Linked DNA regions of Homo sapiens. The protein of the gene in region 4 purifies or fractionates together with the protein of the main gene of each other region. This does not show direct contact. Each region holds a gene or a part of one and is shown on either strand. Other genes may lie near its edges.

What was found.
Region 1: the proteins of CYLD (region 4) and RIPK1 purify together in Homo sapiens (affinity purification with western blotting; 5 studies listed by BioGRID). This does not show direct contact.
Region 2: the proteins of CYLD (region 4) and YWHAE purify together in Homo sapiens (affinity purification with mass spectrometry; 3 studies listed by BioGRID and IntAct, with this or other methods). This does not show direct contact.
Region 3: the proteins of CYLD (region 4) and ELAVL1 purify together in Homo sapiens (affinity purification with mass spectrometry, with the first as the bait; 2 studies listed by BioGRID). This does not show direct contact.

Annotation. Positions count from the first base shown.
Region 1 is NC_000006.12:3,106,478-3,113,502, reverse strand, and holds part of RIPK1 (receptor-interacting serine/threonine-protein kinase 1), read right to left. Parts: exon of another isoform or gene 6,712-7,025; intron 5,702-6,711; exon of another isoform or gene 5,606-5,701; intron 4,202-5,605; exon of another isoform or gene 4,107-4,201; intron 2,701-4,106; coding exon 2,548-2,700; intron 451-2,547; coding exon 164-450; 3' UTR 1-163. UniProt on the Homo sapiens protein: Serine-threonine kinase which is a key regulator of TNF-mediated apoptosis, necroptosis and inflammatory pathways.
Region 2 is NC_000017.11:1,390,199-1,397,223, forward strand, and holds part of YWHAE (14-3-3 protein epsilon), read right to left. Parts: intron 1-7,025. UniProt on the Homo sapiens protein: Adapter protein implicated in the regulation of a large spectrum of both general and specialized signaling pathways. Binds to a large number of partners, usually by recognition of a phosphoserine or phosphothreonine motif.
Region 3 is NC_000019.10:8,002,628-8,010,028, forward strand, and holds the start of ELAVL1 (ELAV-like protein 1), read right to left. Parts: upstream 3,015-7,401; 5' UTR 2,868-3,014; intron 1-2,867. UniProt on the Homo sapiens protein: RNA-binding protein that binds to the 3'-UTR region of mRNAs and increases their stability.
Region 4 is NC_000016.10:50,780,069-50,787,093, reverse strand, and holds part of CYLD (ubiquitin carboxyl-terminal hydrolase CYLD), read right to left. Parts: intron 5,849-7,025; coding exon 5,683-5,848; intron 4,770-5,682; coding exon 4,628-4,769; intron 3,236-4,627; exon of another isoform or gene 2,905-3,235; intron 2,766-2,904; coding exon 2,643-2,765; intron 256-2,642; coding exon of another isoform or gene 240-255; coding exon 148-239; intron 1-147. UniProt on the Homo sapiens protein: Deubiquitinase that specifically cleaves 'Lys-63'- and linear 'Met-1'-linked polyubiquitin chains and is involved in NF-kappa-B activation and TNF-alpha-induced necroptosis.

The DNA.
Region 1 (7,025 bases), on a different chromosome or scaffold from region 4:
TTTCTTTCCCCATTCTCCAGCTATGAAGTACAGGAAACAAAATTTCTGCAGACACAGAACCCCTATCAGTGAGGACAGAATTCTGAATGCTCTGAGGCAGCCAACTTTCTGGGGTTATCCACTAAGTGAGGCGTCCACTTCAGCTGCCGTAGCCCATCCAGGGTTAGTTCTGGCTGACGTAAATCAAGCTGCTCAGAAGGTCGATCCTGGAACACTGGTGGAGCGCCTGGGCCAGCTTCCCCACCGTGGCTCCCTTTATGCCTTCCCTCATCACCCACTTTTGGAGCATCTGGTAAACCTTTTCTTTCAGTCCATCTCGCTCATAGTCATGGTCAATTTCATCAATCTGAGACTGTGTGAAGCCCAGTTTACGGGCACAGTTTTTCCAGTGCTTTCCCAGATTTTCCCTGATTGGGTCCAGGTGTTTATCCGTCAGACTAGTGGTATTATCTGCCAAATGGGAAAAAGAAGAAGGTATCAAGCTAAAACCCATTCAAACATTCCAGCTTCCTGAATTGCTAAAAAACCCAAGTGAAATGAAGAGTACCAGAAGACAGTGAAAAAGATAACTTCTTAGTTATATAGCTGTTGATGCACTGGCAGACATTTCACATGCCTGCTAGCCCACATGGAGTCTTTATGTGAATTAGAATAGGGCATTCCCGGCCTGGCGTGGTGGCTCATGCCTATAATCCCAACACTTTGGGAGGCCAAGGCAGGAGGATCACTTGAACCCGGGAGTTCTAGACCAGTCCTGGGCAACACAGCAAGAACCTGTCTCTACCAAAAAAAAAATTTTTTTTAATTAGCTGGGTATGGTGGCACATGCCTGTAGTCCCAGTTACTGAGGAGGCTGAGACAGGAGGATCACTTGAACTCAGGAGTTCGAGGCTGCAGTGAGCCATGACTGTGCCCCTGTACTTCAGCCTGGGCCACAGAGCAGGATGTTGTCTCAAAAACAAAACAAAAAAGAATAAGGCATTCCTTCCTCCTAGTAGACACATCCCTGAGCCACAGCTGATGGCTCTGTGAACAAAACCCCTGTGTGGCTACGAGGTTGGGTGTTCTAGTCAATCTTAGCCAGTGATCCTGTTGGTATTAGACCTTCCTGGGTGTAAAGGGAAAACCACCATTTTTGTTCCTTTTAGACATTCTCCGCTTACATCTGGCCAGAGTTAAAGCCGCTCAACTCCTGACCACCACCCCGGCCCAACAGTTCACTTTCCTCTTACTTAATCAAGGAATTGTCCAGCAGGCGTGAACCCATTCAGTTACAAAGCCTTCCTTGTCTTTCAAGCGACGAGGTAACTATACTCTTCAAGGTCTGTTTTTGGACCCTAACCCCTCCTTTACTCCACCCCACTGCCGACCGACATTGCCTCTTCTCCAATAGCCATAACCTCTCTCCTTCTACTGGTTCCTTCCCTTCGCCCTTCATAAAAATAATAAAAGGAAACAAATGAAAATGTACAACAACCACAACAAAAAAAATTCCTTAATCCCCACACTACCTCATTAAACAGAATATAAGGAAGAAAACATTTCATTCTTCCTTCCCACCTCTCTTCTTTCCTCAGCCCTCTGTGATGTGGCTCTCTCTCTATCCATATCTTATAGATTGTCAGCAGTCCAAGAACTTCCCAAGATATTTTCCAAATTTTGTCAATATTTCTGTAGGGGGTAGATCCTGGGTTTCATTAGATTCTCACAGGTGCCCCTGACCATTCGCAAGTTCTGTTCTAGGTATTTTAAAAGCTGTCCTTCAAATGGGTTAGACCAGGGGTTGGCCAACTATGGCCTGTGGGCCAAATCTGACTCCTGCCAGCATTTGTAAATCCACTTTTATTGGAACACAGCCGTGCTCATTCATGTACATATTGTCTGTGGTTGCTTTTGCACTACAATAAGAGAGGTGAGTAGTTCCAAGAGACCTCAAAGCCAGCAGGGCCTAACATTTACTATTGGTTCCTTTACAGAAAAAAAAAAAAAAAGCGCCAATCCCATGGTTAATTAGAAAGCTGAGTTCTTAATCAAGTCGTTTTGGCCTCATGACTTTTTCCAGACTGTACTTTGGGATTAGCATTATGGGCTGCACCATAGAACCCTATAAGAGATAGCCCTCTTGATTTTATTACAGAAGTGCTGTGGAGGGCACAGTCTTCTATCTTTTACAGGATCTCCTTCGATGAGGGCCTGACACAGCTATTTCTTCTGGGTCTGAGAAGTAATACTGATGATGATGATGATGAAAGTTTAACACTTTTTATAGAACTTACTATGTGCCAGGCAGTGTTCTAAGCTTTTTATACATATCAACTCATTTAATTTTCACAACAAATCCATAAATTAAATACTGTGATTATCTCCATATTAAAAATAAATAAATGACAAAGGAATTATATGGAAATTACAAAGATATTTTGCAGAAGTAACATAAGAAAACTTTCAAGAAGAATTATCAGAGAAATTTTAAGATTCCACTATGTCCTTCTCACAAGTAAGAAAGTTCAAGGTTGCTAGGCGTTGAGTCCTTCCAGGGTATCTTACCAAAGATAGCTTGGTACTTAGCAGCTGGCTCTTCTTTGAAGTTCGTATTTGTGCTGTCTAGTAGTGATGAACTCGTCCCACCAATCTCCATATAATTGTAGGCTCCAATCTGAATGCCAGTACTATTGTATATGGTATATTTTATAGATTCATCTGCATAGAGAGAAACACACAGGTAAGTAATTCTAGATCAAAAGCAAGAGAAAAAAATACAGCATGGCAAAAAAGCAGGGCTTTATGCCAAACATTAAGTTAATTATCCTATGCCACCCTTTAAACTTTTCTTCTTTCAAATCTGGCTAAACCACCTCATACCCATTAGGATGCCTATGATTAAAAAAAAAAAAAGAAATAACACATATTGACAAAGATGTGGAAAAAATGAAGCCCTTGTGCACTGCTGGTGGGAATGTGAAATGGTGCAGCTGCTCCTATAAAGAGTATAGTGGGCCAGGTGCGGTGGCTCACACCTGTAATCCCAGCACTTTGGGAGGCTGATGCAGGTGATCACCTGAGGTCAGGAGTTCAAGACCAGCCTGGCCAACATGGTGAAACCCCTTCTCTACTAAAAATACAAAAATTAGCCAGGCGTGGTGGTGGGTGCCTGTAATCCCAGCTACTCAGGAGGCTGAGGCAGGAGAATCACTTGAACCCAGGAGGCGGAGCTTGCAGAGTGAGCCAAGATCGTGCCACTGCACTCCAGCCTGGTGATAGAGTGAGAGTCTGTCTCAAAAAAAAAAAAAAAAAAAAATCGTGATTCTTCAAAAAAATTAAAGATAGAATTACCATATGATCCAGCAATTCCGTTTCTGAGTATATACCCAAAAGAACTAAAACAGGGTGTTGAAGAAATATTTCTACCCACGTGTTCACTGCAGCATTATTCACAATAGCTAAAAGGTGGAAGTAAGCCAGGCACCCATGAGCAGATGAGTGGATAACCCAACTGTGGTCTAGCTACACAATGGAATAGTCAGCCTTGAAAAGGAAGGGAATCACATCACATGCTACAACATGCATGAAGCTTGAGGACATTTCCTAAGTGAATGAAGCCAGCCACAAAGAAAAATGCTGCATGGTTCCACTCACATGAGGTACCTAGACTGGTCAGAGTCACAGAAACAGAGAGTAGAATGGTGGTTGTCCGGGGCTGGGAGGGGAGCTGGGGAGTTGGTGTTTAATGGATACAGAGTTTTAGTTTTGCAAGATTAAAACAGTTATATAGATAGATGGTGGTGATGGTTGCATAACACTGTGAATGTTAGATAATGCCACTGTAAAAATGGTTGAAATGGTAAATTTTATGTTTTTGAATTTTACCATAAAAAAATGTGGCTAACACCAAGTCAGAAAACAGAAGTGGATGAACAACACAGCAAAGCTCAGCCACACTTCCCAGCGGGATCCCACGACTCTGAACAGCATCTGTGAAGGGTCCTCCTCCTTTACCTGATAAACTCAAACCTCTCAGGTTCAGTATTCAGAAGCTAGCCACAGCTCTGCCCTACCCTCTTGTCTCTGATCTTCCTTTCACTGTTTCCTCCCTGTCTCCACTCCAGAGACTCCAGTCCCACCAGATTTCCCACCGATCTGCTGACATGATGCTCCTGCCTCTGCCTGGACTGCTGACCTCCCCACGTGCTTCTCCCTGCTTGTGAGTTTCTGACATAGGCCCAGCACAAATTCCACCTCCTTCCATGAGCCTGCACTGTAATCCTAGACTCAGCACTCTGCCCTGCGCCGCTCTGTATCTGAGCTGGGTCTGTTTGACTTCTCCACTAGAATGTGAGTCCCAAGGGCAGCGACCACACCCACTTGTTTTTGTACTCCTTACACTCGCTAGCCTGGGCCTTGGTACGGGGCATGGGCTCAATGACATTCATGCTGAGCTGAATTTGTCAAGTGTTGGTACTGTCCCTAAAGAGCACTTGGCATATCTTTGTAGGAGAGAGAAGGTGGTTGAGAAGACAGTTCTGAGGAGGGAGGGAAATGAGTATCAGCTCAAGGTACCTCCGTCAGCACACCTGGCCCTAAGGTAGGCCACCCTCTGGACCAGGCACTGTGCTCATTTGTTACATTTTCTCTGAGGAAGCCAAGGAAACTAGGGACCCTCTCTACTGAAAGGTGTAAGAAATATAGGATGTGCACACACACGCCATCTGTGTGCAATTCAGGGTGTTCGTGAAGCTGCTGAAACTGGGGTCCTTGGAATCCTAGCAAGGAACCCCTGTGACAGTCTCTGAGGTGCCTTCCAGTGCTCAAGGCTGTCTAGGTGTTCTTTGCTGACAATGATAATAACAGTGCTAATAACAGCAGCTACCGTTTACTGAGCACTTACTCTGCGCATCGCCAGGCACAGTGGTAAGCTGCCTTACCCTGTTTAATCCTCCTGGCCCACCACCTCCAGCTTACACTGACACCGTGTTCGTCACTCACAGTCTGCGCTCACCGCGGGCTTACATGGAGGTTTATTTACCCTGCACCTCTCTACTTGGAAATCTGTGTTCTTGAATCAGTGCTTTCTGCCCAAATCTGACCACTGGAAAAACCATGAAAGTTACGAAGTGGAGAAACGAATGCAATACTAGAAACATACTAGAGCTGATAATATATAAATTTTCAGTTGTAACATTTTCATTTATAATTGAGGAGAATGAACTCTGGAGAGGCAAATGACTTTCCCAAAGTCACCCATATAGTGACCGGCACAAGCAGGACTAGACCTGGGTCTCCTGACTCTTAGCCCAGTGAGCTTTCCTTTTCTAACCTCACTTCAAGCAGCACAGTGAATAAAAAGCAGTGGGTCTAAGAGCTCTTTCACTGAAAGGAAGACATTTATTTTCCTTTTGTACTTACTGCATACACACCCTTCTTCTATGGTATGGCAAATTAGAAAACTCATATTTTGGTATAGAGTTAGGACTTTTTGATGATAAAAGCAAGCAGAAGACTTATTTAAATTTGCAAGGAGAAACTCAGCGTGTTCATTTACTAGCTTAGTACCTGGCAGGATCATCTTTGGGAGCAGAAACACAGAAAATTCTATTATCTATTGTAGATCCAAGCGCCCCTTTCCCACTGAAAGCATCTCAGAACCCTGAAGAAGCTGCATCCCTGTACATCTGTCACTGGCAGAACCAGGAACCAGAACGAGGTGAAAACACAAAGAGATTTCTGGCACTAAACGGGTGTATTTGGGTTGCTCATGTAGAAAAAAGATAAAAAATGACACATTAAATATTGGTTTAGGGTCTGCCTTCTGTCCACTAGGATTTAAACTGTGTGAGGGAAGGGACTCAGGCTGTTTGTTCAGTTATAGCTCCAGTGCCTGGAGAACTGCACGTCACAAAGTGGGAAGAGTTTTGGAATTTTTTTTTTTTTTTTTTTTTTTTTGCGACAGTCTCGCTCTGTCACCCAGGCTGGAGTGCAGTGGTGCAATCTCGGCTTACTGCAACCTCTGCCTCCCGGGTTCAAGTGATTCTCCTGCCTCACCCTCCCAAGTAGCTGGGATTACAGGCGCACGCCACTATGCCCAGCTTTTTTTTTTTTTTTTTTGTATTTTTAGTAGAGACGGGGTTTCACCGTGTTAGCCAGGATGGTCTCAATCTCCTGACCTCGTGATCTTCCCACCTCGGCCTCCCAAAGTGCTGGAATTACAGGCGTGAGCCACTGTGCCCAGCCAGTGGAATTTTTTTTTTTTTTTCGAGACACAATCTCACTCTGTTGCCCAGGCTGGAGTGCAGTGGCATGATCTCAGCTCACTGCAACGTCTGTCTCCAGGGTTCAAGTGATTCTCCTGCCTCAGCCTCCCTAGTAGCTGGGGCTAAAGGCATGCGCCACCACGCCTGGCTAATTTTTGTATTATTTAGTAGAGACAGGGTTTTACCATGTTAGCCAGGCTGGTCTCGAACTCCTGGCCTCAAGTGATCCACTCACCTCAGCCTCCCAAAGTGCTGAGATTACAGGCATAAGCCACCACACCTGGCCAACCATGGCCCCAGCTGAAATTTTTATTGACTTAATCATGAATGAATAAAATGATATGGCAATACTAATAAAAAATTTTATCCCCAACATGAAGGAAACAAAAGGACATTCTGCTCATAGGATTATACATGACTTGGATACTGCTTAATGTCTAATCCAATATTTTGCATTCTACAGATCTTATCATAAAACCTATGGAAGAAATCGAGGATGTTTGCATAGGACGTTTTTGGAGAATTTGGCCTTTTGAAAGAAAATGTAACTAAGCTCTGTGGTTCTGAAAGCTTCCTCTACCTGAGATGATTTCAAGATCTCCAGGACACCTGTGGGTATCATTGGTAGATGCTGTTCAGGTAGTTAAGGTGATGTTGGTGAGTATTATTTGATAAAAATGCTGGATATTACATTAACTCACTTCCATTCTAGACTGCCAGTAACTACTATCACCTACCTTTTACTTCACCTGATAGAGATATGGGAGTTAAAAGAAA
Region 2 (7,025 bases), on a different chromosome or scaffold from region 4:
TTGCTAAGGAGAAAGTCTCTTATTAATCTAAAATTAATATCAAAACAACTATATACCAGCTCAACATGACAAAATTATTATTTGGGAATAATCTGGACGACCTTTACTTTGGATATGCAAATTTACAGATGTAAGATTAAGGATTTTGAGAATATTTCTTTGTGCATATCTTACATAAGGACTAAGCCCAGAAGACTACACTTGCTAAGAATAACTCAAAAAGGTAGGTTATCATCTAATATGATCCTAGCACAGCAGTAACAAAAACAATTATCTGACCTTTCACATTAGATAAGAATGTTTCACAACAAATAGTACCGACAAGTATTACACTTTACAGTTTACAAAAGCCCAAAATTTCATAACCACCCTGCAAATTAGTAGGCAAGAGAGACATCACTAATCCCCATTTGAAAGATAAGGAACCCAGTGATTCCTGTGCATTCTGTGATGGCAGATTTACCACATCTGCCAAATGATGAAATACTGTCATAACTCTTACAGTAATGCATCTCCTTCAAACTTTAGATATGAATGAAGAGTTAAACACATTTCATATTGCTTTAGCTCGATAAAATCCTGATCTGATCACAAATCAAGCCCACCAACAACAGATCCGTCCAGCTACTATGGTAGATTGTTGGAAGGGCAATAAATTCAAGATAAAAATTTCAGAAGAGATAAGCCAGGATCATGGTCATATGGTCTGAACTACACAGTTTGGCATTCTAAACATAACAGTTGTAACAAGATATGGGTGAGCCTTTAAATTTTTATGTGGGTATTTGGTATGAAAGACACTTGTAAAAATAAAAAAATAAAATGTATGTAGGGAAAGCTCTGAGCTTAGGACACTGCTACCAACACCTAGGTCTATTATATTTTTAAACACAGAACTGGCTCAAGGTAGCCATAAGAAAACCAACACACTAGGTGTTGACACCATCAGAGGATTTGGAATGCCAGCAAGCTCTATTTTCAGCAACTACCACATCCTTAACTAGCACGTTCCCATTTGTGGGGGAGGGAGCTAGGAGGAGGAAATTTTCACTTTTCCTTTGACTTATATTCTGCCAAAGGCTAACTTCATTTGAAAAAAAAAAATTCAACCTCCTAGAGACGTAGATCTAAGCTATCTCTGTGATAAAAAGCTGGACAACGTTTAGGAAACTGTTGTATGAGTCTAAATGACAAAATCTAGTAACAAATGGCCATTAAGTAGGGTGACCACAAGGCAAGTTTGTTGCCCAGGACAATCCCAGTTTATGCCTGCTGTTGTAGCTGATGAATTAGTCTGTCTTTTCAAGATATACTCATGTGGATGTTAAATTATGGTGACTTTCATTATTATTTGCTACAATTTAATAAATTTAAATGAACATCTGAAATTGTTCTTAGGGCCATGACTAGCATTAACATTTAGTCAGAGAACCATGAGGTTCTGTTGGCAACCAATTCGTCAATTTGGATATATCAATACCTAAATATATCAAGCTGGCCGGGCGCAGTGGTTCATGCCTATAATCCCTGCACTTTGGGGAGGCCACAGTGGGAGGATCGCTTGAACCCAGGAGTTACCTGGACAACACAGTGGGATCCCGTCTCCACAAAAAAAAAGTTTTAATTAGCTGGTCATGGCGGTACCAGCTACCTGGTGGGAAGATCACATGAGCTCAGGAGTTCAACATCAGCCTGGGCAATCCGCTGGGACCAGGCCTCTACCAAAAAAATTTTTTTGCCAGCCATGGTGGCTCACGCCTGTAATCGCAAAACTTTGGGAGGCCGAGGCAGGTGAATCTTGAGCTCGAGTTCAAGACCTGGGCAACATGGTAAAATCCTGTCTCTACAAAAATTAGCCAGAAGTGGTGGTATACTTCTGTAGCCCCAGCTACTTGGCATGCTGAGGTGCCCAGGGGGTCAAAGCTGCAGTGAGCCATAAATGTGACACTGCATCCCAGCCTGAGTAATATACTGAGATCTTGTCTCGGGAAAAAAGAAAAAGAAAAAGAAAAAAAAGTTCTTTTAAATTATCCAGGTATTGTGGTGCACAGCTGTGGGCCCAGCTAAGTGGGAGGCTGAGATGGGATGATCATTTGGGCCTGGGAGGTTGAGGATGCAGTGAATCGTTACTGCATCAATGCAATCCAAGCCTGGCCAACAAAGCAAGACCTTGTCTCAAAAAAGTATATGTATCTATCTCAAACTGTTAACTGACCATTTCAAAAATAGTGAAAATAGCCATTTTTCTTGCTGCTCTTTCCTACTCCTTAATGGATTCCATTAGACAGCTATCTAGCCAACCACCCGGAACAACACTGGTGAATCATATGCCAACCTTTGTCCCTCCTAGAAGTTGTATGTCTATATCTGGCCGGGTGCGGTGGCTCACACCTATAATCCCAGCATTTTGGGAGGCTGAGGCAGGCGGACTACCTGAGGTCAGGAGTTGAAGACCAGCCTGGCTAATATGGTGAAACTCTGTCTCTACTAAAAATACAAAAATTAGCCAAGCATGATGGCCCAAGTCTGTAGTCTCAGCTACTCGGGAGGCTGAGGCAGGAGAATCACTTGAGCCCAGGAGGCGGAGGCTGCAGTGAGCCAAGATCACGCCACTGCACTCCAGCCTGAATGACAAGAGGGAAAATCCATCTCAAAAAAAAAAAAAAGTTGTATGACTACATCACTAACCTAACAACTTAATAGCATTCACTAAGACAAAGGTGGCCGGGGGTGGTGGCTCACGCCTATAATCCCAGCACTTTGGGAGGCCAAGTCTGACAGATTGCTTGAGTCCAGGAATTCCAAGACCAGCCTGGGCAACATGGTGAAACCCCATCTCTACTAAAACACAAAAGAAATTAGCTGGGAGTGGTGGATCGCGCCACTGTACTCCAGCACTCCAGCCTGGGTGACAGAGCAAGACTCCATCTCTCCAAAAAATAAATAAATAAATAAATAAATAAATAAATAAATAAAATTTAAAAACATACAAACAAACAAAAAAAACAGCTACTTAAGAGGCTGAGGTGGGGGGATCACCTGAGACTGGAAGGTAGAGGCTGCAGTGAGCCAAGATCGCACCACTGCACTACAGCCTGGGTGACCAAGTGAGACCCTGTCTCAAAAAAAAAAAAAGGAAAAAGATAAAAGTGAGAGGAGAAAATATTTTAAAGCTACTTTACAGAAATGCATAGCATCAGCCATATCCCAGTACAGACATTATGATAAACTACGGGGCTTTTCTTTTCTTGAGACAGGCTCTCCCTCTGTGGCCCAGACTGGAGTGCAATGGTGCGATGTGGGCTCACTGCAATCTCCACCTCCCAGGGTCAAGCGATTTCCCACCTCAGCCTCCTCAGTAGCTGGGACTAAAGGCACAAGCCATCACAGGCCAGCTAATTTTTGTATTTTTAGTAGAGACTGGTTTTCACCATGTTGGTCAGGATGGTCTCAAACTCCTGACCTCAGGTGATCCGCCCACCTCGGCCTCCCACAGTGCTGGGATTGCAGGTGTTTGAGCCGCGGAACCCGGCTGGGGCTTTTCTTTTTTTGGTTGTTTTTTTCTTTTGCTTAAAGAGGTGACATCTGCCTACAATAAATCATGTTTTTTAAGAATCTGTATGCGAATAAACATTCTGAGAGTACCTAAACTTCACCTCATTTTAATTTCGCTGTGCCTTGAGATGGGATTTTATCTCTGAAAAAAACCATCAGGTTTCTTTAGGAAAGTGAAAAGATTTTGTCTACAATTCACCATGGATATCAGTCATCACAAACATCAAGATGTGAAGTAGATGCTATTAGAATTGTTAAAGAACAAGCATCAAGCATACGCTACTCACCCCCTACTCCCCTGAAAGGCACCACCTTACTTCACAGAGGTCTTTTGAGTGGCTGAGAGTAAGTGTACCGATCTAAAGGTCAGCAGACACTAAGTTCTGGCTTTACCATTTAATAACTGATTAGCCACATGATCATAAAAAAATCTCTCTCTCAAACTCACTTTCTTGAACCAGAAAATGGGAGTAACGCTCTACCTGCTTCAATCTTGTTACATAAATTAAAAACTTTTGTCAACGTGGGCTGTGAACTGAGGTACTGCATAATGTCATATACACATATGTAAAGTTTAGGCCAGAAGCAGTGACTCACACCTGTAATCCCAGCACTTTGGGAGGCCAAGGTGGGAGTCCAGGAATTCAAGACCAGCCTGGGCAACATAGAGACCTCAAATCCACAAAAAAAAAAAAAAAAAAAAAAAAACACAAAAATTAGGCCGGTGCAACAGTCCCAGCTACTAGGGAAGCTGAGGCAGGAGGGTCACTGGAACTCAGGAGGTCGAGCCTGCAGTAAGCTATAATGGCGACACTGCACTTCAGCCTGGGTCACAAAGCAAGACCCTGTTTCAAAAAAAAATTTTTTTTTAATTTAGCCTTCCCATAAATACATACACCTAATATGTGCCCATTAAAAAATTAAAAATTTAGGCCAGGTACAGTGGCTCATACCTGTAATGCTAGCCCTTTGGGAGGCTGAGGCGGGAGGATCACCTGAGGTCAGGAGTCAGAGATCAGCCTGGCAAACATGGTGAAACCCCATCTCTACTAAAAATACAAAAATTAGCCAGGTGCGATGGCGGGCGCCTGTAGTCCCAGCTACTCGGGAAGCAGAGGCAGGAGAATCGCTTGAACCCAGGGGGCAGAGGCTGCAGTGAGCCGAGATCCTACCACTACACTCCACCCTAGGTGACAGAGCAAGACTGTCTCAAAAAAATAAATAAAAATAAAACTGCAGCCTTTACTCCATGCTTGTCATTACTGTTTGTGTACACAGTGTTCTTGAAATATAAAGAAAAAATATGCCTGCAGTATCAGTCACCCTTACAGTCATCCATGAAAAAAAAAAACAATCAGGCCGGGTGTGGTGGCTCACGCCTGTAATTCCAACACTTTGGGAGGCCGAGGCAGGCAGATCACCTGAGGTCAGGAGTTCAAGACCAGCCTGGCAAACATGGTAAAACCCTGTCTCTACCAAAAACACAAAAATTGGCTGGGTGCGGTGGCTCACACCTGTAATCCCAGCAGTTTGGGAGGCTGAGGTGGGCAGATCACCTGAGATCAGGAGATAAAGACCATCCTGGCCAACATGGTGAAACCTCGTCTCTACTAAAAATACAAAAAATTAGCCGAGTGTGGTGGCACGCGCCTGTAGTCCCAGCTACTTGGGAGGCTGAGCCAGGAGAACCGCTTGAACCTGGGAGGCGGAGGTTGCAGTGAGCCAAGACCACGCCATTGCACTCCAGCCTGGGGGACAGAGCCCAGTCGTAGAAGGGATTTTTAACACTACGTTACTCAGTTCTGTCTATGCATTTAAGAAGGAGAAAAATAAACTTTACTCCAGAAAGTTAGTCCATTAACTGAAACGGCAATGGAAAATTACTGGCCTACAGTCAAAGAACTGGTAGTTAATCTAAATACTTCTAAACTTATTAACAACGTTAATTTACTACTACCTATTTTTTTCCTAACAAGACCGTAGTAAAAAGTTCATTCCACACATGCTCCCTTCCCTGTTCTTCACTAACTAGCAGAATAAGCTAGCTAGAGATGAGGATCTGGTGTTTTAAAAGGACAGCTCTCAGCGGGCTCAGTGGCTCACGCCTGTAACCCCAGCACTCTGGGAGGCCGAGGCGGGCGGATCACCTGAGGTCAGGAGTTCGAGATCAGCCTGGCCAACATGGCGAAACCCCATCTCTACTAAAAATACAAAATTAGCCTGGCATAGTGGCGGATGCCTGTAATCCCAGCTACTCTTGGAGGCTGAGGCAGGAGAATCGCTTGAACCCAGGGGATGGAGGTTGCAGTGAGCCGAGATCGCGCTATTGCACTACAGCCTGGGCGACAAGAGCAAGACTCCGTCTCAAAAAAAAGACAGCTCTTGACCAGGCGCGGTGGCTCAGGTCCTTAATGTCAGCACTTTGGGAGACTGAGGTGGGCGGATCACCTGAGGTCGGGAGTTCGAGACCAGCCTGACCAACATGGAGAAACCGTGTCTCTACTAAAAAAGAAATACAAAATTAGCATGGCATGGTGGCACATGCCTGTAGTCCCAGCTACTCGGGAGGGTGAGGCAGGAGAATCGCTTGAACCCTGGAGGCGGAGGTTGCAGTGGGCCGAGATTGTGCCACTTCAATAAAGCCTGGGAGACAGAGCGAGACTCCGTCTCAAAAGAAAAAAAAGACAGCTCTCAAGTAAATGACTCAACAGATGCATTCCTAGGGAATCCAACATGACCATCAAAACTTCATCCTACCTTCCATGAAGCCAATCTTGATAGGGAAGAGACTAGGAAAGGACAAAACCAACAACAGCCCCACAAGCCCAAATGTAGTTTATGTTACCCCTCTGCTCCCCAAAAACGGGTAAACTTTTCCCCTCTATATTCCCCGTTTTTTATTGTTGCTGTTGCCCAGGATGGAGTGCAATGGCGCAATCTCGGCTCACCGCAACCTCGGCCTCCCGGGTTCAAGTGATTCTCCTGCCTCCGCCTCCCAAGTAGCTGGGATTACAGGCACCCACCACCCCCGGCTAATTTTGTATTTTTACTACAGACGGGGTTTCTCCATGTTGGTCAGGCTGGTCTCGAACTTCTGACTTCAGGTGATCCACCCGCCTTGGCCTCCCAAAGTACTGGGATTACAGGCATGAGCCACCGCACCTGGCCTCTTTTTTTTTTTTTTGGAGACAAGAGTCTCGCTCTGTTGCCCAGGCTGTAGTGTAATGCCATAATCCTGGTTCACTACAACCTTCACCTCCCGGGTTCAAGTGATTCTTCCACCTCAACCTCCTCAGTAGCTATGCCCGGATAATTTTTTTATTTTTGTAGAGACAGGGTTTCACCATGTTGGCCAGGCTGGTCTTGAACTCCCGACCTCAGGTGATCCACCCGCCTCGACCTCCCAAGGTGCTGGGATTACAGGCGTGAGCCACCCCGCCCGGCCTTTCTTCCCCACTTTCTTGTACTAT
Region 3 (7,401 bases), on a different chromosome or scaffold from region 4:
ATGGGATGGGAACACTAAGGAGGGAACAGTTGATTCCGGTGCGGGTGGAGGAAGAGTGGCAGTCAGACGAGGCTTCAAACGGCCAGTGAGCTCTGGGCTGAGCCATGGAGCATAAGCAAAGGATCTCCAGGTGGAAGAGATCTGTCTCCAGGTGGAGGCTGCAACAGGCAGGGAGGGTTAGAGTTTGGGGTCTACGTGCAGGGGCGGGGAGGGTTAGGGTGTGAAGGAACTGGCACTCCAAACTAAGGGCTTCTAGCTTTATCTTTTAAGCCACCAGAGAGGTCAAGAAAACGTGTCTTTTTTCTGCACAAAGATTTTAAATCAGAAGGGATACAATTAGATGTGCATTTACAGAACAGAACTCCTGCTGGAGTGTGGAAAGAGGGAAGAGATGGGAAGCGGAGAGTGAGAGAGGCAAGAAATTTTCATAAAGTTTTTTCATAATTCTCTCATTTCTTTTACTTGAAATAGCACCATGGGCTGGGCGCGGTGGCTCACACCTGTAATCCCAGGACTTTAGGAGGCCAAGGCGGGTGGATCACCTGAGGTCAGGAGTTCGAGACCAGCCTGCTCAACAAGGCGAAATCCCACCTCTACTAAAAATGCAAAAAATTAGCTGGACGTGGTGGCGGCTGCCTGTAATCCCAGCTACTTGGGAGGCTGAGGTTGCAGTGAGCTGAGATGGCACAACTGCACTCCAGCCTGGGCAACAAGGGTGAAACTGTCTCAAAAAAAAAAAAAAAAAAAGAAAAAGAAAAAAAAAAAAAAAGAAATAGCACCATGGTCCGGGCGCGGTGGCTCACGCCTGTAATCCCAGCACTTTGGGAGGCCGAGGCGGGCGGATCACAAGGTCAGGAGATCGAGACCATCCTGGCTAACACGGTGAAACCCCGTCTCTACTAAAAGTACAAAAAATTAGTCGGGCGTGGTAGCCGGCGCCTGTAGTCCCAGCTACTCGGGAGGCTGAGGCAGAAGAATGGCGTGAACCCGGGAGGCGGAGCTTGCAGTGAGCCGAGATCGCACCACTGCACTCCAGCCTGGGCGGCAGAGTGAGACTCCGTCTCAAAAAAAAAAAAAAAAAAGAAATAGCACCATGATCTCAGACTCAACACATCCAGACTGAAACTCTGTCTGCTCAAAACCAATGCATCAACATAAACAGTATTATTTCCTTCCACATTTGAGACGTTCGTGTATCTCAACCTCTTTGTGGGCCTCGAAGTTGCAGAATTTGATAATAGATCCCAGCACAGAACTTTGCACACAGAAAATATTCGATGACAACTGGAGTGCCCTGGAGCCTTGTGATTATAGGAGCAGTACAATCGAGTGGTTAAGAGTAAGGGTTTTGAATCAGAGGGCCCGAGTTCAAACCCTGGCGCAGCCACTTTAGTGCATGAGACTGGTCACATCAAGTGACCCATCTAAGCCTCAGTTTCTTCATCTCTAAAATGGAAATTAATGGAAATTATAACATCACCTGCCTCAAGGACTGCAGACAAACGTCCACAAAGTGTCAAGCACATAGTAAATCCTCAATAAATACTGGTGGCTATGTACAACATCATTTATTCAGTGCCTACCAGGCACAGACCACGCACAACGCAACGGGATTTCCACCCTCTTCAATTTGCACCACACTTTTGTCCTTCCCATTTTATAGATAAGAAAACTAAGGCTCAACAGAGTCAAGCTTGTTCGAGGTCTTGGGAGCATCTCCCAGGGCATTAGAACTTTTGGAGGAAGAGCATTTAGTTCAGTAATGGTTCTCACCTGTGCGTGTGAGAGTGGAAGAGACCCCTCCCCCGCAACCCGAGCCATCTGGCAATGTTTGGAGATACTTTTGATCCTCACGACTTGGAGCATGGGGATACTGCTGGCATCTAGTGGGTAGAGGCCAGGAATACGGCTCAACTTCCTACATTGCACAGGGAAGCCCCCACTACCACCACAACCAAAAACTATCTGACCCCAAACATCAGTAGGGCCAACGTCGAGAAACCCTGCTCTAGACAGATCATTCTCCTCATCTTCCCATTTCTGGCCATCCGGATCTTAGATGAACACTTTCTAGCAAGGGGGCTCAGTCCCACCACGGGAAGCCCATGCAGAAGTTGTGCAGAAGTTCTTCTCCACCTGCCCTGCACACAGTAGGGACCAAAACCCATTTTAACAAGCCCCGCAGCCCAGAGCACCGGAAAAGGAAGGAAGGGCATCCATCCCCCATTGTTCAACTGTGTGCAGCTTGTGTTTCCAACAGGCACACACACATATTTTACAAATCCTAACGTCCCACGCCCCACAAACAGCTTTGTTAGAGATGGCGCTCAAAAAAAGATGCAGTTTAGATTTTTTTTTTCCCCCAGGACTCCCGTGTATCTACTGAAGGGTTTGCACACTTCTCAAAGGACCTCGCACCGGCCGCGGTGCTCTGACAACGACCACAAAAGAATCTGTGGGATTTCCCGGGGGAGCAAGCCCGTGGGCCGTGACCTCTGCGCGCTCAAAGCGTTCCCGGCGCTCCCCCGTAGCTGGCCCCACTCTCCCGCCCCCGGAGCCCGGGCTTCCAAGGCGACCGGGGCCCCCGGCCGTGCAGCCCGGCCCCCCGGCGCATGCCCACGCCGTATCCCCCTCGCCCGTCCCTCGAGGCGCCAGAGGAATCCGGCCCCGGGGCCTGTAGCCGGCGCCCACACCGGCCCGCCCCGACCCGCCCGCCGCGGCCCCAGCGCGCGTCCCCTCCCCCGGTCCGGCGCGGCCTGGGCCTCGGCCGGTGCAGGCCCGCGGGCGCCCCGCGGCCAGGCCAGGCGAGCTCAGGCCTGCCGCGGCCTACCCCGTCGGGCGCCGCCGAAGGCCCCCCACCGCCTCACCTGGATGCGGGCGGGCGGGCCCGGGGCTGCTCCGGGGCGGGCGGGAGGCGGCGGCGGCGCGGCGCTAACGGCTCCGCTCGGCCTCGGTAGCGGTGGCGGCGGTGGCGGCGACGGCGACGGCGGCAGCGGCTCCTCCTCAGCGCGCACGACCCGCTCCGGCCCGCGGCCCGGACACGCCCCCCCCGCGCGCGAGCCCATTGGCCGACGTCCGCCACGGCGCGCTGCTCATTGGCCGGCGTAGCTGTCGCGGCGCTCCGGGGCGCGCGGGAGAGGCGGGACTTCCGGTCGGCGCCGCCTGCGAAGTGCTCCGCGGCCGGCGGAGACGCGGGCAGCCAGCGATGGCCGCGGAGGGGGCGAACTGGGTTCCGGCCCTCGGAGGCTGACGGAAGGCGGTGGCTGAGGAGCGGCGCCTCTGGTTGAGCGCTCGCCGTGTGTCCCGCACCTGTCTGTCCTGCCGCCGCCCGGTAAGGTAGGAAAGGTCAGCGCGCCGGGGTTACGGGTACAGAACCTGGGTTCGAATCCCGGCCCCGACGTTTCCGCACTACGTGCCGTTGGGCAGGAGCTGACGTCACCTTGCCGGGCCTCAGTTTCCTTCTCTGGTGCGCTGAGGAGGCGGGGCATGGAACGTGGTCAGCGCTTCATCGGTGCTGGCTCTTTGAGCAAGCCAGTTCCCGAAGGCTCAGCATCTCATTCATTCATTAAAATGTCATTGAGCGCCTACTGTGTGTCAATCACTGTATGGGCAGTGAGCAGAAAAAAAATACCTGGTCTTATTGGGCTAACATTCTAAACCAGCGCTGGCCTAGAATGCCCTAGTAGAAATACATGCAAGCTACATGTTTAATTTTTTTTTATGTAAAGATGGGCTCTGGTTCTGTTGCCCAGGCTGGTCTCGAACTCCTGGACTCAAGCGATTCTCCTGCCTCCGCCTCCCAAAGAGCTGGGATTACAGGCATGCCTGCACTCTGCCTAATTTTTTCTTTTTTTTTTTTATGATCTGAAAATAATAGTCTTTTTATTTTTATTTATTTATTTATTTATTTGAGACGGAGACTCGCTCTGTCGCCAGGCTGGAGTGCAGTGGCGTGATCTCCGCTCACTGCAACCTCCGCTTCCCAGGTTCAAGCGATTCTCCTGCCTCAGCCTCCTAAGTAGTTGGGCCTACAGGCGCTGCGCCACCACAACCAGCTAATTTTTGTATTTTTAGTAGAGACGGGGTTTCACCGTGTTGGCCATGATGATCTGTATCTCTTGACCTCGTGATCTGCCCGCCTCAGCCTCCCAAAGTGCTGGGATTACAGGCTTGAGCCACTGCGCCTGGCCTACAATTTTGTTTTTCTTTTTTTTTTTTTTTTTTTGAGACAGGATCTCACTCTGTCACCCAATTTGGAGTGCGGTGGTATGATCACAGCTAACTGCAGCCTCAACTTCCCCAGCTCAGGCAATCAATCCTCCGGCTTCAGATTCCTGAGTAGCTTAGACTACAGGATGTGCCACTATGCCTGGCTAATGTTTTATTTTTTTGTAGCGATGAGGTCTTGCTGTATTGCCTAGGCTGGTCTCAAACTTCTAGACTTAAGTGATCCTCCTGCTTTGGCCTCCCAAAGTGTTGGGATTACAGGCGGGAGCCACGGTGCCCAGCCTGTTTCTTTTTTTAATCATATTTTCTTAGAAGTTTTTTTTTTTTTTTTTTTTTTTTTTGGAGACAGGGTCTCACTCTGCTGTGCAGGCTGGAATGCAGTGGTGTGATCTCAGCTCACTGCAACCTCTGCCTCCCTATTCAAGTGATTCTCGTGCCTCAGCCTCCCAAGTAGCTGGGATCACAGGCGTGCAACATCACACCCAGCTAATTCTTGTGGTTTTAGTAGAGATGGGGTTTTGCCATGTTGGCCAGGCTGGTCTCAAACTCCTGGCCTCAAGTGATCCACCCACCTCGGCCTCCCAAAGTGCTGGGATTACAGGCATGAGCCACCACCCGGCCTAGGAAAGCTTTTTAGAGATTGGGTCTCACTGTGTTGCCCAGGCTGGAGTGCAGTGGCTGTTCACAGGTGCAATCATCCCACAGGTTTAACTCCTGACCTCAAGCAGTCCTTCTGCCTCAGGCTCCCAAGTAGCTGGGATTATAGGCACGTGCCACCACACCTAGCTCAATTAAATGTTAAATTTAACATTTAATTGTTAAATTTTATAGTAGCCAGCATTCTGGGTCATCACGGTGCAATAGAAGTATAAACAAAGCAGGCCAGGCACAGTAGGTCACGCCTGTAATCCCAGCACTTTGGGAGGCCGAGGCGGGCAGATCACCAGGTCAGTAGTTCGAGACCAGCCTGGCCAACATGTTGAAACCCCAGTCTCTACTAAAAATACAAAAATTAGCTGGACGTGGTGGCAGGAGCCTGTAATCCCAGCTACTCGGGAGGCTGAGGCAGGAGAATCGCTTGAAACTGGAAAGTGGAGGTTGCAGTGAGCCGAGATCCCGCCACTGCACTCCAGCCTAGGTGAAAGAGGGAAATTACATCTCAAAAAAACAGTATAAGCAAGCCACAGATTTGTCAGCGAGGTATGTAATTTAAATTGGTACATTGTTAGCCATGTTTAAAAATAAGTAAAAAGAAACGGGTGATGTTAGTTGTAATGTGTTTTATTTAACTCAGTAGGTTGAATATGTTATTATTTAAACATGTAGTCAATATTTTAAAATACAGGATGTTTTGCATCTGTTATCTTTCCAAAATAGAAGATACTTTGTGTCCTTTTTCTTTCCTGCATGCTTTTTTTTTCTTATTTTTTTGAGACAGAGTCTCACTCTGTTGCCAAGGCTGGAGTGCAGTGGCGGGATCTCGGCTAACTGCAACCTCCCCATCCCGGGTTCAAGCGATTCTCCTGCCTCAGCCTCCCGAGTAGCTGCGATTACAGACATTTGCCACCATGCCCGGGTAATTTTTTGTGTTTTTAGTAGAGACAGAGTTTCACCATGTTGCCCAGGCTGGCCTCGAACTCCTTACCTTAAGTGATCCACCCGCCCTGGCCTCCCATAGTGCTGGGATTACAGGCGTGAGCCACCGCGCCTGGCCCCTGCCTGCTTTTGAAATCTAGTATGTATCTTATACTCCACAGCACAGCACAGCACCGCACATCTCCAGTCGGACTGGCTACATTTCAAGGGCTCAACCATCACGCGTTACCAGTGGCTACTGCATCAGACTGTGCAGTGCTAGATGGGGAGTCAGAAGAGAAACCAAGTGATTTCCATGTCAAGTGGTGAACAGGCTAAGAAGAAAAGTAAATTGGGGAAAGAGCATGGGGAATGTGGGGGTTGCTGTTTGAAAGAGGATGGTTGGGAAGGCTGAAGAGCTGTCATTCGCAGAGGGACCCAAAAGAGGTGAGAGCACTGAACAAATAGTTACATTCTTCATTGTCTGCCGCAGTGCTGTCCAGAAGAGCTTCCCACGATAATGGGCATGTTCCATATCAGCACCGTCCAATTCAGTAGCCCCTGGCTCCATGGGGTTTTCTCTCTTTGTTTTTTTCTGTTTGTTTTTTTTTTTAAGACAGAGTCTCACTCTTTTGCCAAGGCTGGAGTGCAGTGGTGTGATCTTAGCTCACAGCAACCTCTGCCTCCTGGGTTTAAGCGATTCTTCTGCCTCAGCCTCCTGAGTAGCTGGAACTACAGGCATGCACCACCACGCCTGGCTAATGTTTATATATATATTTTTTGCTTTGTTTTGTTTTGTTTTGAGATGGAGTCTTGTTCTGTCGTCCAGGCTGGAGTGCAGTGGTGTGATCTCGGCTCACTGCGAGCTCCATCTCCCTGGTTCACGCCATTCTCCTGCCTCAGCCTCCCGAGTAGCTGGGAATACAGGCGCCCACCACCACACCCGGCTAATTTTTTCATGTATTTTTAGTAGAGACGGGGTTTCACTGTGTTAGCCAAGATGGTCTCTATCTCCTGACCTCGTGATCTGCCTGCCTTGGCCTCCCAAAGTGCTGGGATTACAGGCGTGAGCTGCAGCGTCCGACCTATATTTATATTTTTATTTATTATTATTATTATTATTATTATTATTATTATTATTATTATTATTATTTTGAGATGAAATATTGCACTGTCGCCCAGGCTGGAGTGCAGTGGTTTGATCTCGGCTCACTGCAACCTCCGCCTCCTGGGTTCAAGTGATTCTTGTGCCTCAGCCTCCCAAGTAGCTGGGACCGCCTGCTACCACACCTGGCTAATTTTTTTGTATTTTTAGTGGAAACAGGATTTCATCATGTTGACCAGGTCAGTATTGAACTCCCAACTTCAGGTGATCCACCAACCTCGGCCTCCCAAAGTGCTGGGCTTACAGGCATGAGCTGTTGCACCTGGCCTCCATGTGTGTTTTGTAGGGTTTTTTTTTTTTTTTTGCACTTGGCACATGGTTGGTACCATTAAAGAACTGACTTTCTGGCCAGACAACGGTGGCTCATGCCTGTAATCTCCAGCACTTTGGGAAGCCAAAGTGGGAGGATAACTTGAGGCCAGGAGTTCAAGACC
Region 4 (7,025 bases):
AAGAGGAGCTAACCATATATCACATAAAAAGAAATTTCTAATTTAAAAGAAAACCCCCCAACTACACAGACACACATTTCAGCTAATACTTTGACATGTGAATATGCTCTTCAGTTATTTTTAACGCATATAAGTTAAGATGGTCACCTTTTTCTTCAGAGGTAAATCCTGATGCAGCCTCCACCTTTTCAAGTATTTTCCTCAGTTTCATAATTTTTGTGGCACACACATATCCATATCTAAGTTAGTAAAAAACTATTAATTGATATTGGCATGTATTAAATTATATAACACATCTTAATCACATATTTCTTTTTTTCTTTTTTTTTTTTGAGATAGAGTCTCACTCTATCACTCAGGCTGGAGTGTGCAGTGGCCCGATCTCAGCTCACTGCAACCTCCGCCTTCCAGGCTCAAGAGATTCTCATGCCTCAGCCACCAAAGTAGCTGGAATTACAGGCGTGCACCACCACATCCAGCTAATTTTTGTATTTTTAGTAGAAACAGGGTTTCACCATGTTGGCCAGGCTGCTCTTGAACTCCTGGCCTCAAGTGATCCGCCCACCTCGGCCTCCCAAAGTGCTGGGATTACAGGTGTGCGCCACCACACCTGGCCAACACATTTCTTATACAACTCCAGTATGTCATAAATCAATAGGTTAGACAATTATTTTTGAAGAAAACAATGATAAGCTTCTTCTTGAAGTTTGCAAAATTAAAGATCTAGAACCAGAATTATCCTAGACACTATTATATGCTCTACAAGTAACTGTCATACACTAAGATAAAAAATTTTTAGGTTTGCTGTGACTGATTTTTTAAATAATATTTGCTTGGGAAATTAAAGCATTTACTTTATAAAGCAGAATATACAATTTTGAGAGAGAATATCCTTTTAATACTGAAGTGTGAAACAGCCACCAAGGGAAATGGGAAAGGGAATTTATAAGAAACTGAAAATCTAAAATCTGCAATCAAACCAATTGGCATAATGATGACATTTTCTCTCTTCTTTGTCTGAATGCAAGACACATTCAATCAGTTTAATATCACTTTAAATTTGTAATTCTAAAAATGGCTTCAGAGGAGAACTTGGCGGCTACCATAAGTTTACTAAGGACAAGTCAGAACTAGCTAATTTTATATCCACTTTTTATACTATTCATTCACTCATTAGTTTCCTGCAACCAATACAGACTGAGAATCTACCACTTACATAGTAACGTAACCTGTCAGCCACTGGGAATACAAAATGAGTAAGGTTAAAAAGACAGGGTCTCTGAAGAAAAGCAGAGATTTCAGCACCAAATAAAACCAGTCAGCTATATACAGATATGAATGCTACAGACACAGGGAATCCTGATCACAACAGGGCATCTGACCAGTTTCTTACCGTGGACAGGGTAAGAAAGTGTGATTAACTATGATTCTTAACTGGCTGAACAATAGGATCCAAAGAATGTTTATTCTTCCTCTCTTCTAGGAAGGAGGTGTTAACATGCCTTAGAGTTTCGGGTTTGACCTGTCTTGTTCCAGTATCAATTACTTGGGGGAAAAAAATCGTATGTTTAAAAATTTGCATAAGACAAAATAGTTGATGTGAAAATCAAGATTCACAATTATCTTAAAGAGTAAGATCATTAGAGAAATCATTACAGAATTTAAAGAAAGCAAAAGATATAAGTGAGGAAATTTATTCTCTTATAATTTACTTTCCTAGTCATGTGATATAGCAGATAATTTGGAATCCTCATTGTATTTGAGTATTCTGCTTTTTTGGTTCAAATTTGATATCAAACTATTTTTTACTTTAATTGATAAATAAGAACAGTATATAAAAGGATTCAAATTTATCTTAATATGGACTTTAAATAAATCACTTTCTCTCTATATTCCTGAATGAACAAATTTGTTTTATGATCTATGGTCCTAATTCTTCATAGTTTAAATTTTATAATGTGACATTATCACATATCACTACTACCACTTATTCAAAGTCTTTACTAGATATCTCCTGTCACTTGTGCTTGTACCATTACAAATTGCTTCCTGTGGCCATAAAAAGACATATTTATAATTCCTAAAGTAGGAAATGGAAAAAGAATCACCTTTTTAAGGCAGGTGGAAAGAGGCCAAATATATTCCTTTAACCAAAAAATATGGTACTAAAATACATCTCATCTGTTGCTAGTCCAAAGTATTAAACACTAGCTATTCTATAAAGAATTTCCCTTTCTCCTTTTCTTTCAGATTTAAGAAGCTAGACTACACCAATTTAACTAATAAGCATGATTACTTGTAGCAGAAGTGTTGGAATAAACTATTTCAAAAGATAAGAATCCTAAGTATTATGTATTAGCTTTCCTAAACATACTGCAATTGCTAAATTATAGTTTACTCTAGCAAAATAGGTTAAATCATTTCATGGAATATGCTATGTTCTACACCTTGGCCACATTTAAGAAATTAAATAAGCAAAAAAGTACAAGGACCAAAGGTTTAAAAACGTAATATTTTACCATAAGAACTAATTTTCACCCATCTCTTATTACATGAAGACAAGGTATAAATTAATTACTATACCAGAAAACAGCAAATAGAACACCATGTAAAGGCAAAATAGCAATTTGTTTTCTACTTACATTCTCAGAGGATTAACAATTTCTGTCCTCAGTAGCTCTTGGGTTTCACTATAATATTCTACATCGTTCTTTTCTTTGGGTCTAAGTAACACAGTGTCCAGAACAGAACTAAAAGCAAATAAGCTGCAAAAGAAAAAGGATAATTTTCTTCATGCTGTAAACATATTTTTCAAGAAACAGATTTTTAACAGAATTAGAAGAGGAAAATAAGTAAAGTCTGGAGAACAAATAACATAACAATTTGTGTTTTTCATTAACACAGGTACCAGGACCCCTGTGAAGATACCCATGGTTCAATCATCAGGACCTACAGATCCTTCCATGTTAAGGACAACACCAATAATACTGAGAAAGCAAACGGCAGATTGGCAGTGTTAAAGGATAACAACGTGCCAACAGAATATTAAGAAAGAAAACTTCTTTGCAAAAGTTGATAGAGAGACTACAAATATCAGTCAAATTACAAACAGACAACAGAGGACAGCATTTGGAAACGACTTCCCGAGGCAAGCACTATTCAGTGCCCCACTTCCCTCTCCCCATGCCCCTTTGCAAAGATCTATTACATTAATAAATTTCTTTAAATGCTAAAATCACTTATGAGTGACTAACAGGCCAGGTGCGGTGGCTCATGCCTGCAATCCCAGAACTTTGGGAGGCCGAGACGGGTGAATCACCTGAGGTCAGGAGTTTGAGACCAGCCTGACCAATATGGTGAAACCCCGTCTCTACTAAAAATACAAAAATTAGCCAGGCATGATGGAGTGCACCTGAAGTCCCAGCTACTTGGGAGGCTGAGATAGGAGAATCGCTTGAACCCGGGAGGTGGAGGTTCCAGTGAGCCGAGATCACGTCACTGCATTCCAGCCTGGGCGACACAGCGAGACTCCTTCTCAAAAAAATAAACGAGTGACAGCAGTAACTTGCTGTTATCAAAGAAAAAGAAAATTTAGCTAATATAGATTTTTATCAGGAAATCTAAAGAATATTATATCAATGCTACAAGGTTTGTTTTTGTCAAAGTATTCTGCAAATAAAATGGCCGCCACTTTATTCTTCTTCCTACTTTAAAAATGTTAACATCCCATATTAACTTCCTAATTCTTATCATATGGCTACAGAACTGGCAGGCTACTCTCAATTTAGCCCAGTCTACAATCCTCAGAGCCTAAAGATTCTTGGTTCAATTTCCAGAGCTTAAAGATCCTTGCAATGTTAAGGCTGGGCGTGGTGGCTCATGCCCGTAATCCCAAGCACTTTGGGAGGCCAAGGCGGGTAGATCATTTGAGGTGAGACGTTCGAGACCAGCCTGGCCAACGTGGTGAAACCCCCGTCTCTACTGAAAATACAAAAAAGAAAGTTAGCCAGAAGTGGTGGTTCACACCTGTAATCCCAGCTACTCAGGAGGCTGAGTCAAGAGAATCGCTTGAACCTGGGAGGCAGAGGTTGCAATGAGCCCAGATTGTGCCGCTGCATTCCAGCCTGGGGGACAGAGTGAGACTCTGTCTCAAAAAAAAAAAAAAAAAAAAAAAAAATCTTAAGTTGTTCCACTTTGGAAAAAATTGCATATATGAGGGCAGCAGTGCTGCTACTGAAAATCGTTTTTTTAAAGACAGTAGTTTTATGACTGCCTTTACCTACTAAAAGAAATACAGCACATAACAGCCAATGGCTTTACTGCAAGTTATGTTGTTTGAGACATGCACAAAGATTTCCCAGATACCCTCTGTATATCTATTCCATTGTACCAATATCATTCACCTTTCTGGACACAGAAACATGAGACAACATTCAAAAGCTTAAAAGGAGTATGTCATAAAAAGCAAATCTCCCTTTCAATCCTGACCCACAGTCATCCAGTTTCTCTACTCAGAGGCAGATGGCAGTTTCTTTCACACACACTCACACGCACACACACACACACACCGGTATGTGTCCCTGCCTCATGGCACTATCTATACCTATTGCATTCTTTTTAAACTTACCAGAATAAGGTTGAGTCTAAGTAACAAGAATTGTAATGACCCTGGATGCCTTTCTTCTTCCCAATCATTATCTCCAAGCCTTCTTTTTCCATTTTTGGTGGAGTATTTTCTTCTACTACTTCACTTAAGTAGCCTCCAAATGCTGAAAAGATTTTTTTAAAAAAAGTAAATGAAAAGAATTCTTTTAAACTATTACAATATGTATTCCCATAAATATTTTTTCATTTTAAAATGTTTTTGTATTTTGATGCAAAATTTTTTCTTTAAGTGGAAAGTAGGCTTTGGTTAACTGCTATTTGACTTGGCTTATAAAAATTGCTATTGTTCATTTTCAACTTCATTTCCTCCAAGATTTAAAAACACACTTTAGAGTATTATGTGTAAAAAGCATCTGTCAAGTAAAATATGTTTCCCAAATATTTCACTATTTATCTGAAGTTGCTTCACTTTCAAGTTTGAAAAGAAAATGAAAATTCCAAAGTACTATTTCAACATAATAAGAGTGTTTTTCATAAAGATGGCTTTCCTGTTTGCACCTGCTGAAGCCCCAAGATGCTTTTCCACTATTATGTAGAAGTGGAAAGGAACAGCACCAGGAAACTGCCACCAATTACACATGATGAGGAGAGCTGTCCTCCAGCAATCAGTTGAAATCTACTTCTTACACTAAAATGCTGATTTCTTTGTAAGATACACTCACTGCTGTAAACAAGACACTGTGAGGGAAGTCAGTAAAAAAAAAAAAGAAGGTTACATTTCAATTTCTACCACTAGTATTGCTGAAAACTAAATGTCTGTCATCAACAGGAAGAGAAAAACAAACCACACTATTATTCACTTTATAAGTCCCAAACGCACGTCCTAATACTTTTTTAAGATGTCCCCTCTTAAAACAACTTTCTTATACACCATGCAACATTTTTACTGATTTAAAGCTTAATGAGCGTTGGCAAGAAATATATTAAAACACTGTCACCATCACCTAATATAACATGATATGAGATTAGAATTAGAGTCATTCCAGGTTGTTAAGTAAACAAAAAGCATCCAAATACCTAAAGAGTTACAGCGCTCAATCTGATTGGAAACCGGCTGCAATGATGCAAACCTAGAGTCAGGCCTGCAGCTCTTCAGTTTCACAAACAGCGCCTTCTTCAGGGCACAGGTGAAATACCGAGTGCCTCTGAAGGTTCCATCCGTACAGCCTGCACACTCATCTTCCTGAAAAAGAAATGCTTCAATATGCATTATACCGTGCCTTACAGAGATAGTATACAAAGAACTAAGGTTTCTAAGACCTGTTTCTAGTATACCCTTTCTCACCACTCCCTCTTCGCACCTGTACTGAGAACCTCATCAAGAAAAAGGAGTTGAGTAATCAGTGCTTCAGCCCACAGCTACTGATTTAAGAAGTGACTTCCTTAATCCAGCATGAAGTCCTTCTTGTATTTCCTTTCAGAATATATGCTTCAACCTCCCCTGGTTAAACGGGCTTTCCCGCACCATTTCTACAAGCATTAAAACAGGCAGGGAAGGAGAAGGCTATTTATTTTAACCCTCATTCTTGCCTCCCCACCATGCCCCATAAGATAGTATTCACTAGCATGGAAACAAACAAGAAAAAAAAAAAAAGAAATATATTTAAATTGGCCAGGTGTGGTGGCTCATGCCCATAATCCTAGCACTTTAGGAGGCCAAGGCGGGCAGATCACTTGAGTCCAGGAGTTTGAGACCAGCCTGGGCAACATGGCAAAACCCTGTCTCTACTAAAAATACAAAAAATTACCAAGCATGATGGTACATGTCTGTAATTCCAGCTACTCAGGTGACTGAGGCAGGAGAATAGCTTGAGCCCAGGAGGTCGAGGCTGCAGTGAGCCCTGACCGTGCTACTGCACTCCAGTCTGGGTGACAGAGTGAGACCCCATCTCTAAATAAATCCTAAACATACTCAACTTCTCCTTTCCTGATTACAAAATATCAAATGATATGTTCTCCTGATCTCTAAAGGGAAAACCTTTCCCTCTAGCAAAGGTCTCAAAAGATCTCTAAAAATGGTGATTAACTTTAAAGCCAGTGATATAATTATTAGAACTGACCAGGGGAAGGGGCTGAAGAAGAAAGAGAAAAGCTGATGGCAAATTTGCTTGATTTACTAAATTCTGTTTAATATAAGGAGCCTAAATCGATTGGCCTAAAAATCAACTTTCATTCCTTGAACATAAATCAACTAACATTAGGACAAGTGGGTCGCAAGCTTCAGGGGCGGCAAAGGGAAGTCAGAAAACATGGTGAGAAAATTATTCTGCAGTGATAGCTTTTCTGACAAATATAACAGTTTGTCAAAAAGCATATAATAGGGCGAAATCTGCACAAAACCTCACAGAGAAAAAAATTGA